Linked DNA regions of Homo sapiens. The protein of the gene in region 1 purifies or fractionates together with the protein of each later gene. This does not show direct contact. Each region holds a gene or a part of one and is shown in the gene's direction. Other genes may lie near its edges. The genes, in order: ALKAL2, CACNA2D2, CACNA2D1 and LTK.

Region 1 (5,002 bases):
ATAAAAGAGGCAAATTGCTGAACTTTCACAGATGTGCCGGGCTTCGGCCAAAGAGCCAAACTTTCTTAAAGACGAGTCCGGGAGGCAAGTGCCCTCCTGCGGGCGTTCCCTGCCGGGGCGCGAGGGACCCGCGGGCCGAGGGTCCAGCGCAGAGGAGCGCGCAGATGGCGCGGTCCTTGCCGGGGAGGGACCTTCGCTCGTCCTCTCGCAGGGGGTCTGGGGAGGGGGTGCAGGTCCTGCCCCTCCTCGGGTGGTCAGCTGTGCGCACCTCGGGGGCCGTGGAGAGTCCTCACCCGCCCATCTCCTGCCTCCTGGCCGCCCCGCCTCGGGGACCAGGGCTTGGGGACCCGAACCTGGGGACTGGGCTCGGGCGGGGCAGACCCCTCGAGGTCCGGAGAGCGGATCCCTCCAAAACGGATGGACTCTAATTGACTTATTAAATGTCGAAGCAATCAGGCAGCTCCCTTTTTAATAGCCCAAGATCTACATTTAGACAAAAACAGAACCGAGTTCCTGGTAAAGGCGTTTCTTCTCATCCTGTCACAAGTGACAGGAACGGAGGGAAACAGACTGGGGGAGGGGCGGGGGGAGGAGAACAGGGGGAAGAGGAGGAGACGGGGAGTGGGGGAAGGTGGGGCAGGAGAGGAGGAGACGGGAGATGGGGAAGGTGGGGAGGGAAGGGGCGCGGGAGACGGGGCGCGGGCGAGGGGGAGACGCGGTGGAGATGCGGGTGGGGGGACCGGGCGGGGGCGGGGGCGGAGTTGAGGGGGAGCGGGAGACGGGGGGAGGCGAGAGCGAGGTGAGGCGGGGGGACTGACGAAGATCCGCATGGGGGTACTAACACTTCAGCGGCTTCTAATTAAAGCCCCGCTCGGAGCCCTTGGGGACCCGCCTGACGTCGGCGGGCGCGGGGATAAGAAGCTCCCCGAGGTCTGAGGCGGGACTCGGAGCCGGCGCACCCCAGGTCGGCCGTGGGTCCAGCGCTCGGAGCGGCCGAGTCCCCGCGTCCCGTGCGCTCCGCCCGCCGGGCATGGAGTAGTGGCGCAGCTCGGGGCGCGGGGACAGACGTGCGCACAGACGGCGACGACTCCGGCGGCTCCAGGTAACCGGCCCGGCCACGACGCGCAGGTGGCTCCCGGGTGGCGCCGGGCAGGTGCGGGAGGGCGCCATGGCCGGGAGGTGGAGGGGCTTCCAGCACGTGGCGCGGCCGGGGCCAGCGCGAGGGTCCGCACCCGGCCTCCTCCGTGGGCTTCGGGGACTCGGCGCTCGCCGGCGACCACCGCGCAAAGGCGACGCTGGAAACTTGAGCGCGGCCGCCGGGCCCGGCGCGCGGCGCCGCCTTCTTGGAGAGCGGTAGGCGCGGGAGCGCGGCCCCTCCGAGGTCCGCCCGCGGCCGGGGAGCTGCCTGGCACCCGCGGCTTCCAAAGGGGAAAGAAAGTTGCGCCCGCGCCAGGCGCAGCGCGCTCGGCGGACGCGGCCTTTCGGGCGAAAGTTAGGAGGGGCCGGGCTGGCGGGCGGGCGGGTTCCGGGGGCTCCTTTCCGCACCAGCGGCGGTCGCTCCCCGTGGGCGGGACCTCGGGCGTGATCGTCGAGGAGACCGCGGCTCCCTCACCTGCCGGCTTGTTCCTCGGGGTCCGCGGAGGTGAGGGGCCGGGTCCAGCGCCAGCGGCTCCTCCCGCCTCCCCTCCCCTCCCCCGCCCCGCGCTCCGTCCCCCTCCCCCGCTGACTTTCTCTCCGGCCCCCCGCGCCCCTTCTCTCGCAGCGAGCCCAGCTCTCGGCGCGTGTCGGAGTCTCCCAGCCCCGCGGCCCCGAGCGCACGATGCGCGGACCCGGGCACCCCCTCCTCCTGGGGCTGCTGCTGGTGCTGGGGGCGGCGGGGCGCGGCCGGGGGGGCGCGGAGCCCCGGGAGCCGGCGGACGGACAGGCGCTGCTGCGGCTGGTGGTGGAACTCGTCCAGGAGCTGCGGAAGCACCACTCGGCGGAGCACAAGGGCCTGCAGCTCCTCGGGCGGGACTGCGCCCTGGGCCGCGCGGAGGCGGCGGGGCTGGGGCCTTCGCCGGAGCAGCGAGTGGGTGAGTGGGGCCGAGCGCGCCCGAGGGCCGGGGCTGCTGGGAAATAGAATTGTCTTTGAGAAACACGTTTCAAAAAGAGACATCAATTTTGACCACTGAACAGCAGGATTCCTTTTTTTTTTTTTTTTTTTTTTAAGAAAAAGAAAATAGCAGCAATAGGTCCGCGCATGAGGCCTGGCGGAGAAGCGCCTGGTCTCCTTCTGGCGCGCGTGAGCTGCGGCGCGGGTCGGTGGTTTCCACACTAAACTGTCAACCGTCACTTTGGAAATGGAAGCATTTCCAGCAAAGCTTTCCCAACTGAAAAGGAAGCATCCAGGCTCCTTCATGGCCCTGCCCAGAGTGGTGGCCCACGGGGAATTTCCCAGGAAAGCATGAAAGCGTCTAATGCTTTTGTGACACAATCAGGTCAAACATGATAAGGTCAGTTTTATCCCGGCTGCGTCAAGTTAGGAGTGAATGAAGACTCACTAGGGGGTCAGCTGTGGATGCGAATGCTCCTCTTCAGAGGGCGTGACTTCACACACAGTCGGGGCTCAGCCAGGAGCCCTGAACGGGGGAGTGAAGATGGAGAGGGCTGTAAATACGCAAAAACAAAGCTGAACTCAAGAAGAACGCCCTTGCAGGGTTCTCCCCACCCACTGTGTGCGGAGAACCCTGGTGGAAGAAGTTTGCTTGGCAGAGTCTTTCCCTGGGATTCTTACCCTACAAACCAGGTTCATGCATATTCCCACTAATTTACACCTCACTGAAACGTGGTCTTTTAATCCTTACTCTAAATATGTATCTAGATAAAGTAATGTTCTGTAACCCATTTTTTTGTTTGAAGGGTCAGGTTTTCTCTAAAAACTTTGAAATGTTGTGGGATTTGATTCCCAAGGTCCTTAAAACTAAAGTGCCTAAAAGTGACTTATTCACTGGAAGTTAAATGTTTAAAAGAAAAAAAAAACAGTTTTCTTACCTCTGTAACTTCGTGGTCTCTGTCTGCATCCCACGGGGTAGACAGCCGACATAATCCTGGAGCTTCAGGAGCAGTTACTGTTATTTCAAGGAAAATAAATGTCCCTGATATTGAGTCTTCTTCACTGTCGTGTGTTGCAATCCAGGGCCCCAGTCTTTTTTATTTTGTGCAAAGCAACTTGGCTAATATGGAGCTCCAATTTTCTTCAACATTCACTTAAGATCACATTTTTAAAAAATGCGTCCTTCAGGTAATATAATACTTTCTTTTCCCTGAAACAGAAATTGTTCCTCGAGATCTGAGGATGAAGGACAAGTTTCTAAAACACCTTACAGGTAAGTTTTCTCCTCGTTCCTCACGTCTCCCAGAGCTCCTTTTCACCTGTGAGTCTTCATGATCTGTTTCTTCTTCCGTGTTCCAGGCCCTCTTTATTTTAGTCCAAAGTGCAGCAAACACTTCCATAGACTTTATCACAACACCAGAGACTGCACCATTCCTGCATGTAAGTAACAGCATTGGATTTTTATAAAATGCAAGAGCAGTGCAGGCAGCGGTTCCCCTCTTTCCATTTCCTCATATAGGCCCCTGCCTTCTTAGCTCAAATTTGCCTATTCCTTCCTCACTATGGAGTTAGGGGCCAAGATCGCCAGACCATTGCAGAAGATAACTAACTTCTGCATCAGCTAACGCCAAACTGGAAATTATTTACAGTCATTGGAATAATAGGCTCTTGGGATGGGCTGAACTCCGATTCTCCTCCTGTTAATTCTCCTCCAATGCCCATGTTTGTGTGTACTCTACTATGGCAGTCAGATGTTAAGAATGAGTTGCTAAACTGACTCCAAGAATAAGATTGACCTGGATCATCTCCACTGCTCTTACCAGAGACTTTTTCTTCCCATTGGTAATTATAACCTCATCACCCAGGAATTTCATTGTGATTTCAAAACTGTTTCTCTGGCTGGCTCCATCACTCCTTCAGAAATGCAGAGCTGCCCTTATCAACATAGCTCTCAGCAGTAGCTTTCTCTCCTGTTTCTTTTCAGTCTTCCTAACCTGCTTTTGGCTATTTATTCATAACAAAACATTTTATTTCTCCAAAAGTAGCTCCTTGTTCTCTTCACTGAAGCCTTATTAGCTACAGTGATAGGGCCCTAACCCATTTTTTTTAATTCGGACTCCAACTTTGATTTTATTTAAGGCTCACAGGAGAAAAGTCATGCAGAAACACTAGGCATCCTGCTAACTGCTGTCATCAGGGCTCTCCAGCTGGACCAGGCAGCGTTCCGGACTTGCTGTCCTGCCTTCCCTCTCCAAAAACAAACAAACGAAAAGCCAATGTACACGAAGTATAAGTGCTTTTCTTTGTTTAGGCAGCAAAATTACTTCAAATAATAATAACCATCATTTATAGAGCTGCTTCTGTGTGCCGGGTGCATGCCAATGAACCTTGGCCCACTGAAGTAGCGTCACCAGCGCGTTTTGGACAAGGCTAAGGCACATGCACTTTTAGCATTCACATCACCGCACAAAGATGCATGGAACGCAGCCTCGGCCCCTCTGACCATACCTTTAGCAACATCATCCTCACGCCAAGGCCAGCAGCACACACTTCCTGAAGAGTTTTTATATTCTTGGTGCTGGGCCCCACCCTTCCATGTGCACCTGGCACACTAGTACTCTCCTGTTTTCTTCTTTTGGAATGTAATCACCTGTTTGGGAATCATTAATGTGGCTCTTGGGGCCAGAAAATCTTGTCGTTTGTATTGTTTTGATGTACATATATTTTATATTACCTATTTCCTTACAGTAATAGGATCATAGATTCCAAATTTGGAAGTGACCTCTGAGTCATTCAGTCTCATCTTTTCATTTATGGATGAGGAATTGCTTTTGTGCTGTCAGATATCAGCAAAGCTAAAGCACAGATCTCATGGTTGACTCTGCAGGCCTTTTTCCAAGGCATCATGCT
Region 2 (4,524 bases), on another chromosome or scaffold:
GGGGCCAGTGCAGGTGACCACAGAGATTGAGATGGCCCTGCTGGCTTGCAGGTCCCCACAGGGGTCTCTTGGGGCCTCCCTAAAGGAGTCAAGATTCTGTCATTCAAATCTACATAAGGTCAGGACCTAAGGGGCAGACTCAGCCAAGCCCTGCCCTGCCACTGTGAGACTCAGGCTGTTGGCTTGGTGTCCCCGGTCCTGGTCCCGCTCCTCTCACCTGGGCCCTCACAGTGCTTTTCCTTCTGCATCTGGTCTGGACCTGCTGGGTCCCCAGCCATCACTGTTACCCGTGACTGAGCCTGGTGAGGGGAGAGCCTCACAAACCAGGAGACTGTCTAGCTGGGATTAGGTGGGGAGAATATTCACAAAGGAGTTCTGAAAGCCCCCATCTTAGGTGAGGAGGCCTCTGTCAAGGGCAAGCCCAGCCTAATCTTCTCAGTTGGGTAGCTTGCTTGGTGACCTTGGACAAAACCCCTCCTCCCCCTGGGCCTCAGTTTCCTTTCTTCCAGGATCCTTCCAACTCTGACATTCCAATGCCCTAAGAAGACAGATCTGGGGTCTTCCTGCTCCTCTCCACGCCCTGCTTTAGCTGTGGCCGCTGGGCCTTGTCTCTTCCAGTGTGAGGGTGCCTGGACCTCCCGTCCTCCTTTGGCCATACCTTGGGTGTCTCATGGCTGCTTTTCAGATTGACCCCCTTTGAGTTCTGATCAGCCTAATTGTTTAGCAGAGGGGGAGGGGCATGGGAAGCCTTTCCTGCTGATCAGTATCCATCTTTCCCACCTTGGAAATGATCCTCATTCAACAAAGGGGAAGAGGTGGGTGAAAAGGCTGAGAAGTCACTCCTTCTGCCTGTCTTTTCCCTGCCCCTCTTAGACCCTGGGCCCCTTTCTTCCCCTTTGATGCCTGCCTTCCCTGATGGCTAGTTCTTTCTGAACAAGCCCCCTCTTCGTGTGCACTGAGACTCTGCCACACCTCTCAACAGCTGTGTGACCTTGGGAACTTCCACAGCCTCTCAGGGTCTTGGAGCCTCATCTGTAAAACAGGGCTTCCGTGGCTGTACTGCCACATAGGGTTGGGGTGTGATAGACTGTGAGGGATGGGCCTGGCCCCAGGGAGTCTGTGATAAGGGCATGTGGATCCCGACTGGATCTAGGGGGTATTTGCAGTCTAGCTGGGCCTGCACTCCAAGTGCCAGCCACTATCCCCTCATCCATAGCACCCAGCACCCATCCAGGCCCTACAGGCACTTGGGACCCACTTGTGGTTTGTGAGTCTTTCCTCTTGTGTTTGGCTCTTGCCTTTGCCTGTGTGCACATGTCAGCTTGTATGTGGGCGTGTCTACACCTGTGTGTTCATGTATGTGTGCATGTGTCAGACGTGTTCACATCTAAGCATGCTTGTGCGTATACCCACTTGTGTGCGTGTGTTTGTACTCACACATGGATGCATGTGTGTAGATGTGTGTGCATGGGCATTCTCGTGTGTAGGCAGCAGTAGGTGTGTGCGTGTATGTGCATATGAAGTCAAATGCGGGCATGTGCTTGGGAGCCTATGTAGTGCAAGCACACGTGTGGTTTATCTCTGCAGCCAGAATGGGCTCCTAGTGCCCACCTTCACCACCTGCCTTTGAGGTTAATGCCAGGGCTCGGCTGGGCAAACACTGGCAGTGGGAAATAAAGCATCCTGATTGTTAGGGCCAGTGTTTTGCAAACTTTTATGTTAGAAACAGCCTGAGTTAAAGCTGAGCTGGAAAGTTTGATCTTCTACCAACTGGCGTGATGACAGTCTGCAAAGGAAACAGAGGCTGCGTCCTTGTAATTCAAATTTTTGCAAATTGAATGGTATTTACATTCAGTGGAGGACTTGGGACTCAGAGGAGCTCCGTGAGTCCTTTGTGAAGTGAAGCATCTTTGCAAACAGCCCTTCCCCGCGTGGAAAATCTGGAGGGTGGGCGTGGAGCCTGGGCTCAGGCAGAGTGGGAAGCTCTTGCTGTGTGACCTTGGGCTGGCACTTTTCCCTTTCAGAGTGGGTGCTTCTCATTTGCACACTGAAGGGCAGGAGACTGGCAGCCCTTGAGTATCTGCTGTGGGTTTGGGTCCTCCCCGCAGCAAGACACTGTGGGCACGATTTGGGCTGTAAAAACTTTGGCTTGATGATCCCTTGATGATCTGGAGGGATGATTCCTCCACATGTTCTCCATCTGGAGCATCTCCAGCGAAGACACTTCCTTCAAGGATGGATTTTTGTCTACTGAGTCTTCATAAATAAGGCTGTCCAGTGATGCCCTGTGATGGGCCCTGGCCCCAGTAGCTGTGTGGACCCAGTTCTCGTGGGTTCTGTTGTCTGAGAGTTTTGCTTTCCTGGCATTTTCAGGACGCGCCTGTGTGTTGTCAGTGCTGCGATGGCCCAGGGCCCTTGGGATTTTGGGAAGTGGCTGTGAGGGGCTCAGGAGCCTACAGGCCAGGAGGGGTTCCTGTGGGGGCAGGGAGCCTGGGTGCAACCGTCTCCTTGGGCATTATGGGCTTTGCATGCGTCCCTGACTTGGAAAGGACATGCCACAGCCACAGAAATCCCTGAGGTCCTGATACCACCATCATATAGACACGGAAACTGAGGCCCAAGATGGGGGAAGGGAACCTTCAAGCCCCACATATCTGTGGCTGCACATACTCTGTGGGCAGGGCCCAGCCCTCATCCCTAATGCTCAGTACAGACTGCGGGGAGGGCGACTCCCTATGCAGCCTTCCTCGCACTGATGTACAGCTGTTTCTCTTAAATAAAAATATCCAGCCGGGTGCAGTGGCTGACGCCTGTACTCCCAGCACTTTAGGAGGCCGAGGTGGGAGGATCACTTGAGCCCAGGAGTTGAAGATCAGCCTGGGCAACATGGCAAAACCCCATCTCTACAAAAAAATACAAAAATTAGCCAGGTGTAGTAGTGTACACCTGTGGTCTCAGCTACTCAGGAGGTTGAGGTGGGAGGATGGCTTGAGCCCAGGAAGTTGAGGCTATAGGGAGCTGTGATGGTGCCATTGGACTCCAGCCTGGACACAGAGTGAGAGCCTGTCATTTATAAATAAATAAATAATAAATAAATAAAATCTATGGCATGGGTCGGGGGGCAAGTTGAGGTCTGCTTTGGCAAACTCGAAGGGCAAGATGTCTATGTGGTGTGAGGCCCCAACTCCTTGGGTTTCTGTGGGGCAAACTCTGATGTCCCTGTGCTGTTTCAGAGACATAAAAGCTTTCTGGGTCCCCTTGGGAAGGACAACTTTGTCACCAGGCAGTGTGGGCTTGGAGGGGCTGGCGTATTCCTGAGATGGTAGAGGCCCATGCTCTGCCTCGAGTTTCCAGCCTGACGTGGCATTTCAGTCTTGATCACTTCCTTCCACAGCCCGTGTTCTCCTCCTGCTGGCCCCGCCTAAAACGCTGCATTTGAAGCCTTAAAGGTCAGGTCTGGTGCTGCCACCAGTTCCAGCAAACAAACAACTAAACAACCCACCCCCGCCCTGCCCCCACTTCAGTTATGAGAAAAGAGAAGGAGCTGGCAGAGCAGGCCTCTGTGCTAAGGGCCCTTGCAAATGGGCATTTCTCCTTTCTCTCTGTGAGCTGAGTCCGTGGTGGGTGTGTTAGGGCCCTGGGAGTCTTTGTATCTCTCCTTGGACCCCCCGCCAGGCTTGCTGGAGTGTCTCCCTTTTGGGCTAGCTGGGACCTTGCACCCCAGAAACCTGCCATGGGCAGAGCCCCACTTCCCTGGCTAGCCCCTGAGGCCTTGCCTGGGCTGACTCCAGCCTCCGGCCCTGGGACTATCTGGGACACTTGAAGGTCCTGGGAAGAGCTCTGGCCTCCGCACCTCTGGCTTTCGCTCACTGCTCACCGTGTCCCTCTCCAGGCTGCTGGCTTCGCCCAGGGCCCTGGGGCAGGAGCCTTCCTGACCAACACCCTCCTCCGGCTCCCTGCCCTTTGTGAGTCCCTCCTCCAGACCCGTGCCCCGCCTCCAGCTCTGTGCCGGGTCATGGGGCCCTTGAGGAGTAGGCATTGAGCTGACTGCGACCCCCTCAAGATCTGAGTCTGAGGAGCGCATTTGGCTGCCAACAAGAGGCTGCTTCTGTGCTTATCATGTGTGGTGGGTTTTCCTCATGGTGGGCCCTTTATCCCCTGACAGGGAGCCAACAGGTGTGTGATGCGGCTGCTGGCAAAGACCAAGTGGTCACCTGTGCTCAGCCTGGTGGCCTCGCTTTTGGTGTAACTGTCTGTCCTTGGCCAACTTACTGCATGGCAACAAGATGGCTGCCACAGCTCCAGGCATCATCTGCAGACCCAGGTACTAGGCATGGAAGAGATGTCTCCTCTGGGTTTCTCTTAAGAGGGGAGGAAACCTTGCCCAGAAGCCCCCAGCCGACTTCCTCTCACATCTCATTGGCTGGCACTGAGTCACATGCCCACTCTGAACCAATCACTGGCAATCTAAACAGTACACTGTGATTGGTTCCGGCTAATCAGGATTTACCCTTGAGCCGAGGA
Region 3 (3,441 bases), on another chromosome or scaffold:
CTCTCTATTTTGGATATATATTTGCAAAGCAAAATCCTATATGTGTCCAAATAATGTATTTGAACCAACATAAACAATGGTTCAAATACATTATTCCCATTTTACTTTAATTCTTGATGAAGGTCCAGATGCTATGATTGCACTCTATGTTGAGCCTTATAAATTGTATAAGAAATATGGGAAATGGAAATGTATTTATTTTACCAGTCCCCAACTTTACCATATGGAGCATAGTTGCTAAAATCATAATTCTTGGGAATTATAAAACCTACTATTAAATTTTACATTTATTTCTTGCATTTATAAATATATAGGATTTTTGATACTGTGAAAGTTTTTTCTTTAAAATTAGTATATTATTCAAACAGCATTTATTATTTTCTTTCATAATCATCAAAAGCTACAACTAAAAATTTAAAGCATTTGTCAAATGATGCTAGGGAAATTCCTCAATGATAAAATCTAGGAGAAAGTAATTTCTTTGGATTTCAATTACAGCAGTTTTATAAGGTAAGTTCAGAAAGTGAACTAAATATGGATTACTCTGAAAGATGTGTTACTAAATATTTTTCAAGATTTTTAGATTTTTCTTTTTCTGTTCTTTTCTTTTTTTTTTAACAACAGGAGGATTATACTGACTGTGGTGGTGTTTCTGGATTAAATCCCTCCCTGTGGTATATCATTGGAATCCAGTTTCTACTACTTTGGCTGGTATCTGGCAGCACACACCGCCTGTTATGACCTTCTAAAAACCAAATCTGCATAGTTAAACTCCAGACCCTGCCAAAACATGAGCCCTGCCCTCAATTACAGTAACGTAGGGTCAGCTATAAAATCAGACAAACATTAGCTGGGCCTGTTCCATGGCATAACACTAAGGCGCAGACTCCTAAGGCACCCACTGGCTGCATGTCAGGGTGTCAGATCCTTAAACGTGTGTGAATGCTGCATCATCTATGTGTAACATCAAAGCAAAATCCTATACGTGTCCTCTATTGGAAAATTTGGGAGTTTGTTGTTGCATTGTTGGTGATTACATGTGAAAGGGTTCCCCATACAATTGTTAATGAACCATAAGAAATGTCTTGATATTGACCTGGAATTTTGACTTGCTGCAATTTTACTAAGAAAATCTCTAAGGGGAAAGAAATTATTTTTGCCTTCACTTTTTCTTCTGTGAAAAGTTAATTCCTGCTTTAAGTAGCAATTATTGAAATATATAGAGAAAGAGAGAATTAACATTGGTCTAAATTGTTGAAATATAAATAATGGCTAATTTTCTATGAAAAATTTGCCATGAATAAAATGCCTTATGAAGAACGGCTTCTTTGCCAAAAATAAAACACAATTGATGACCAATTCAATTTTGATGGGGTAATGAATTGATGGTTTGAAAATAGTAACTAAGAAATTATTAAACTAAAGGTGCTTGAGGGAGAAATTAGAATATGTGACATATTTCCTCATAAATGTAAGCAAGCCCTTAATAAATGCTTTGATGTAATGTTCCTTTTGTTCACAGTACAGTTATGTAGTGCTAGCCAGATATTTAAAAATGCTCTAAGAAAAGCTTGTCAGGGGGGAGGGGGAAATGTTTTTCTTGTGATAAATGAACTTTGGTTTACCAAGGGTATTTTGCATGATGCTGCTGCTATTTTAACTTTTCAGTTGTTTTTTCTCTTACTGTAGAGTGTAGTCATTGAAAAGTTAACTGAGTGATATTGTTATGTAAGAATCTGAACCTTGCAGTGTAAATGCACTTAAGTCATCTTTAAAATGTTGTTAAACTACTCTGAATATACTGTGCAATGTAAATGCTGAATGATTGGGGTTAGATAAATGGTGAAATGAGAATTAATGAATTTTATACAGATTCATGCTTTCGCCTGATAACCTATGTACAGATATTTTAAGTACATAAATCAGATTTGACACATTTATTTTTTGAAAAGTACATATATGTTCTCAATGAAGATTCATCCTAGGTTTCCTCTTTGTTCGTTTCAATAGTAGCACATACAATCCAAAAGTTCCTGCTACTGCTGCTTTTGCCCTTCCATTTTAAATGGTATGATCGTTTGGCCAAAATTTCCATGCAAGTTGATAAGGGTTTTACAATAATCTGAACAAATAGGAAACCTTGAATCTCTATGTATGCACATGAATACTTGATTGTGAATAATAAAAGTTGTTTTTTATACAGCCTCATTGGTGAAAATGGTTAGTGTAGTAAATCAGATATTTCATTATAGACTAATATGGTAGCAGATTATTTATGCTTTTAAAAATTATTTTCTGGAGCAAACAGTATTTGAAGAAAAGGTAAAAACTATGAATGTGTAATTCTAAGAATAGTTAATAATTTTACTGAAGGCTGAACGTATGTAGATATTTTTTATGATAAAATGCAGTTTTTCTTTTTTTGGAACATGCCAATTACTGGTATGTGTATATGCTGGAAATTTTCTTACATATCCTTTTTAAGTCAAAGTTATTAACATTATCCAGCATGCTTTAATATGCTCCACATATCAAAGATATAACCAATAATTTAACGTAGCTTAAAAGATAACATTTGTTTTGTTTTTAGCTTTGCATACATTTGTAATTCCCTCCCACCACCAATATACCTTAGGTACCATTTGTGTACATTTCAAGATTTTTTTTTTCAATAAAAAGGTGGGGGGAAATGGAATCACTTTGCCAACTATTGTTCTAAGAGTTGACATCAGTTACCATTTCTAATGCATTGTTGTGATTTTGTAGTGTCATTCATAACTGGTATTGACATTTTAGAAAACACCAAAGTGATTTAAAATATATGTGGGGAAAAAAACTTCTCACTCTAGTAACAATGTTTTAATCATGTTGTTTGTTAAATATTTAAAAGTTATTGTTCAATTTTTGCTAGACTATCTTAAATCATGATAGTGTTGGGAAGGGGGTATCAAAATATAAAATTGTTAGTTTGTGTATATAAACAATGCACATTAAAACAATTGAATTGCTTCCAGCATACAACAAACTACCTTAAAATTATGTTCAAAATCTATTAAATATATTTTCATGGCTAATGTCGAGTATATGTTTTCATCAATTACATTGTTATTGTATTAATCGCGGTTAAACTTGGCATCTCTTGGCAGGATCCTATTTAATTTCTGTTGCCATCAAAATATATTTATATGCATGAGTTTTGCTATAAACCTTTATTTTCTGCTATAAAGTTATATATTATGACAACCATAAATGCAATTACAAATTGGGTAAGAACAAGCTGAATAAAAGTTGTTCCCATGACTAATATTAGTCTTCATGCTTTTAGCATATTTTTTAAGACAGTAACACTCATCCCATCAAATTATTACATTACATTTAGTATTTTTCTGAGTTACATTGACAAGAACTTAAATTATAGCCTGTTATTAATATTGATTTCCA
Region 4 (4,524 bases), on another chromosome or scaffold:
TGAGGGCGCGGGCCGCGGGGAGAGGCGGGCGTGCTCCCCGTGTGGCTGCCAACCTTCCTGCTGTCGCTCTGCAGGTGGTGGGGGCGGCTGGACGTCGCGGGCTCCCTCTCCGCAGGCCGGCCGCTCACTGCAGGAGGGGGCGGAGGGCGGCCAGGGCTGCTCCGAGGCTTGGGCGACCCTTGGCTGGGCCGCGGCCGGCGGCTTCGGGGGCGGCGGCGGGGCCTGCACTGCGGGCGGAGGCGGCGGCGGCTACAGGGGTAGGTGCACCGTTGGAGAGGGCAGCTGAGCAGGCCCGAGGGTGAGGTGATGTTAGAACCTAAGTACAGGCCGGAGCCCTCGGGAGGATAGGTGTGGGAGAGGCATTAAGCCCTGCTCAGCAGCTCCAAACAAAAAGCAGGAGCTCTTAGAAAAGGAGGTCAAATACACTGCAAATCAGCATGCAGACAGGACTCCCTAGATTTCCGTTTAATCCAGGATCTTTCCCATCACAGCAGGTCCCTGCCTTGTTCTGCAGCAGTCTTCAGAACTTAGAGCTGGCCGAGTGAGCAAGCTGAGCAAAGGGGCAGAAAGGCAGGATTGGGTTAAGTCAGTGGTTCTCAAAGTGTGGTCCAGGAACAGGTAATATCCCCACAACCTAAGTTGTTCGAAATGCACATTATCAGCTGGGCCTGGTGGCTCACGCCTGTAATTCTAGCACTCTGGGAGGCCAAGGCAGGTGGATCACCTGAGGTCACCAGTTCGAGACCAGTCTGGCCAACCTGTGAAACCCTGTCTGTACTAAAAATACAAAAATTAGCCGGGCGTGGTGGCGGGAGCCTGTAATCCCAGCTACTCTGGAGGCTGAGGCAGGAGAATTGCTTGAACCTGGGAGGCGGAGGTTGCAGTGAGCCGAGATCACTCCATTGCACTTCAGCCTGGGCGACAAGAGGGAAATTCTGTCTCAAAGATTAAAAAAAAAACAATGGAAATTATCCTGGGAGTTGGGGGAAGGTTGGGGAGATGCTGGTCAAAACAATGCAAAATGGCAGTTAAATAGGAGGAATACCTTCCAGAATCTACTGTACTACATGGTGACTGTAGTTAATGACGATGTATTCTTGAAAATCGCTAAGAGAGGCGGGGCGCGGTGGCTCACGCCTGTAATCTCAACACTTTGGGCGGCGGAGGCGGGTGGATCTTGAGGTCAGGAGTTTGAGGCCAGCCTGGCCAATATGGTGAAACCCCCATCTGTACTAAAAATACAAAAATTAGCCGGGCGTGGTGGCATATGCCTGTAGTCCCAGCTACTCGGGAAGCTGAGACAGGAAAATCGCTTGAACCCGGGAGGCGGAGGTTGCAGTGAGCCAAGATCGTGCCACTGCACTCCAGCCTGGGTGACAGAGCAAGACTCTGTCTCAAAAAAAAAGAAAAGAAAATTGGTAAGAGCGTAGATTATAGGTGTTCTTACCACAGAAAATAAGCATGTGAGGTGGTGTATATATTGGTTTGCATTAGCCATTGCACAGTGTGTACATATTTCAAAACATCATGCTGTATACAATAAATATATGAATTTTTTTTTTAGATGGAGTCTGGCTCTGTTGCCCAGGCTGGAGTGCAGTAGTACAAATCTCAGCTCACTGCAACCTCCGCCTCCCGGGTTCAAGCAATTCTCCTGCCTCAGCCTCCTGAGTAGCTGGGATTATAGGCATGCGCCACCATGCCCGGCTAATTTTTGTATTTTTAGTAGAGATGGGGTTTCACCATGTTGGTCAGGCTAGTCTCGGACTCCTGACCTCGTAATCCGCCCATGTCGGCCTCCCAAAGTGCTGGGATTACAGGCGTGAGCCACCACACCTGGCCCTGAATTTTTATTTTTAATTAAAAATTAATTTTTAAAAAGAAATGCGAATTCTCAGCCCTTCTCTAACATACTGAATCAGAAACTGTAAGGGAGAGTCCCAGTCATCTGTGTTTTGATCAAATAACTAGTGTAAATGCCTTTGTGCCTGTCTGGGCTGTACTGCTCATACATACACACATGATCTACATTCTCACAGAAAGGGACTGTGAGGACATGGGACAGGAGGGGCTCAGGCAGGCAGGAGGCATCCCAGCCAGCCTCAGCGAGGCCTTCAGGCTCCAGCTGATTACCCCCTCCTCACCTCCTTCACTCCCACTTGTGAACAGACAGCATTTGCATCATGATGCTGGAGAAGAGAGGGCCACACTGGGATTTCCACCGGGAGATTCCAGCTTCTCCCCCATCCCCCATTTTTGTAGTCAAACTCTCCATCACTCTCCACTTCCAGGGGGCGACGCTTCAGAGACTGACAACCTCTGGGCTGATGGGGAAGATGGAGTATCCTTCATACACCCCAGCAGCGAGCTCTTCCTGCAGCCTCTGGCAGGTATTGGCCCCAACCCCACCTCTGAGCCTGGCCTGGACTTCTTCCGCAGTCCCTGAGCCCACTCCTGCACTGCACTGAAGAGCCACCTGCACTGTGAATAACCTTGCATAGCACAGGATTCTTGCATAGCATAGGGTCATTTGAAAAGTGGGCTGTCATCATGCCATTGCACTCCAGCCTGGGCGACAAGAGCAAAACTCTGTCTTAAAAAAAAGGAAAGTGGGCTGCCAGTCGTGCTGGATGGCAATGCAGGGCATGCTGCGTGCTTTTCAAGTACCCCCTTGCTATGAATTCGCTTCAAATACCTGGGAGTGTGCAGGCTTGACAGAAGTCCCCCAGCTTCTCTCACCACCCTTGTAAGCTTGGTGCTGCTCTTTGCTCTAAAGTCCTGGGCTAGAATTAACCATGTGGCTGGAAAAGGCATGTATTTATTTATTTATTTATTTATTTATTTATTTATTTATTTTTATTTTTGAGACAGAGTCTCGCTCTGTCACCCAGGCTGGAGTGCAGTGGTGCGATCTTGGGTCACTGCAACCTCCGCCTCCCGGGTTCAAGTGATTCTGCAGCCTCAGTGCTGGAGTAGCTGGGATTGCAGGCGTGCGCCACCACACCCGGCTAATTTTGTATTTTTAGTAGAGGCGGGGTTGGCCAGGCTGGTCTTGAACTTCTGACCTCCGGTGATCCGCTCACCACGGCCTCCCAAAGTGCAATGATTATAGGCGTGTGCCACTGTACCCAGCCAAAGGCATGTATTTACTATATCCCAGCCCTACCACACCATATCATATCAGTTCTTTTACTCACAGTCACCGAGAACCACGGAGAGGTAGAGATCCGAAGGCACCTCAACTGCAGTCACTGCCCTTTGAGAGACTGCCAATGGCAGGCAGAGCTCCAGCTGGCTGAATGCCTGTGCCCAGAAGGCATGGAGCTAGCTGTGGATAACGTCACCTGCATGGGTATGTCCTACCTTTGCCCAAGGTCTGGACTCCTGGGGTCACAGACTGGGAGGAGCAGTAGGCCACTGGGAAAGATGGTATAGAGATTTGCTGTGTGCCAGGCCCTGTGGTGGGTGCTGGGCAGGGGATTGGAGATTCATCGGTGCACAGTGCCTTTCAGAGGCCTGTCGTCCAGTGTGGGAGGATGTTTAGATATAGCTATGTAAATGTATATCTCAAGTGACGATTGTTGTGGGAGGTATAAAGTGCTTTAGGGGTGTTCAAGAGGGAGAGGTTGCTTTTGCCCAGGATAATGGGGGAAGGCATCATGGAAAAATTAACACTTGAGCTGAGTCTTGAAGCGTGGGTAAAACTTGAGGGTAAAGGAACAGAGAAGACCTTCCCACTGGAGGTGTCTCTCTTTCTCCCTAGACCTGCACAAGCCCCCAGGCCCTCTGGTTCTGATGGTGGCTGTGGTGGCAACCTCAACACTGAGCCTCCTTATGGTGTGTGGGGTCCTGATTCTGGGTACGAAGCGTCTAGCAGGCACAGTTGATTCAAGGCTGCTCCTCTCCAGTGAGCTGGGATGGGTTTCTGCGGGGTCCCGGGGCTGACTTCAAGACCACTCACCGCAGCAGAGCCGTGGTAGACTCCTCTGGGATTCTAAGATAGGAAGGAGCTGGGGAGGCCTGGGGAAAACGTTTACCTTAATGAGCATCTGGAGGGGTGTCCTGGGCAGGTGGGGGAGGGAGAGTTGATGGGCAGGTGGAGGGTGTGCCGTTATTCTTCCCACCCCCAGTGAAGCAGAAGAAGTGGCAGGGCCTGCAGGAGATGAGGCTGCCGAGCCCTGAGCTTGAGCTGAGCAAGCTTCGAACCTCTGCCATCAGGACAGCCCCCAATCCCTATTATTGCCAGGTGGGGCTTGGCCCGGCCCAGTCCTGGCCTCTGCCACCAGGTGTCACCGAGGTTTCCCCAGCCAATGTTACTCTGCTCAGGTAAGTCTTCTGCCTCCTTCTGAGAACCTATGCACTCTGAATCCCCACCTCTGATTCTCTCCCTGCTGTAGTGAATTATAAGTCCCAGAAAAAATCTGGCCCACATCCCTTGTGTAAGGGAGAGGGAGGCCCTGAGAAGCTCCAGAAGGGGAAGTAACTTGCTCAATGTCACCTCTCCGTCCCAGTTCTTAGAATATG

The links.
Region 2: the proteins of ALKAL2 (region 1) and CACNA2D2 purify together in Homo sapiens (affinity purification with mass spectrometry; one large-scale study listed by BioGRID and IntAct). This does not show direct contact.
Region 3: the proteins of ALKAL2 (region 1) and CACNA2D1 purify together in Homo sapiens (affinity purification with mass spectrometry; one large-scale study listed by BioGRID and IntAct). This does not show direct contact.
Region 4: the proteins of ALKAL2 (region 1) and LTK purify together in Homo sapiens (affinity purification with mass spectrometry; one large-scale study listed by BioGRID and IntAct). This does not show direct contact.

What each region holds. Positions count from the first base shown.
Region 1 is NC_000002.12:284,653-289,654, reverse strand, and holds the start of ALKAL2 (ALK and LTK ligand 2 precursor), read left to right. Parts: upstream 1-1,563; 5' UTR 1,564-1,642; exon of another isoform or gene 1,643-1,690; intron 1,691-1,762; 5' UTR 1,763-1,819; coding exon 1,820-2,072; intron 2,073-3,030; exon of another isoform or gene 3,031-3,311; coding exon 3,312-3,365; exon of another isoform or gene 3,366-3,451; coding exon 3,452-3,532; exon of another isoform or gene 3,533-3,726; intron 3,727-5,002. UniProt on the Homo sapiens protein: Cytokine that acts as a physiological ligand for receptor tyrosine kinases LTK and ALK, leading to their activation. Cytokine-binding is sufficient to activate LTK. In contrast, ALKAL2-driven activation of ALK is coupled with heparin-binding to ALK.
Region 2 is NC_000003.12:50,493,240-50,497,763, reverse strand, and holds part of CACNA2D2 (voltage-dependent calcium channel subunit alpha-2/delta-2 isoform b precursor), read left to right. Parts: intron 1-4,524. UniProt on the Homo sapiens protein: The alpha-2/delta subunit of voltage-dependent calcium channels regulates calcium current density and activation/inactivation kinetics of the calcium channel.
Region 3 is NC_000007.14:81,947,692-81,951,132, reverse strand, and holds part of CACNA2D1 (voltage-dependent calcium channel subunit alpha-2/delta-1 isoform 1 preproprotein), read left to right. Parts: intron 1-624; coding exon 625-741; 3' UTR 742-3,441. UniProt on the Homo sapiens protein: The alpha-2/delta subunit of voltage-dependent calcium channels regulates calcium current density and activation/inactivation kinetics of the calcium channel. Plays an important role in excitation-contraction coupling.
Region 4 is NC_000015.10:41,506,897-41,511,420, reverse strand, and holds part of LTK (leukocyte tyrosine kinase receptor isoform 1 precursor), read left to right. Parts: intron 1-12; exon of another isoform or gene 13-74; coding exon 75-257; intron 258-2,291; coding exon 2,292-2,390; intron 2,391-3,184; coding exon of another isoform or gene 3,185-3,199; coding exon 3,200-3,352; intron 3,353-3,763; coding exon 3,764-3,859; coding exon of another isoform or gene 3,860-3,907; intron 3,908-3,957; exon of another isoform or gene 3,958-3,976; intron 3,977-4,130; coding exon 4,131-4,326; intron 4,327-4,524. UniProt on the Homo sapiens protein: Receptor with a tyrosine-protein kinase activity. Following activation by ALKAL1 or ALKAL2 ligands at the cell surface, transduces an extracellular signal into an intracellular response.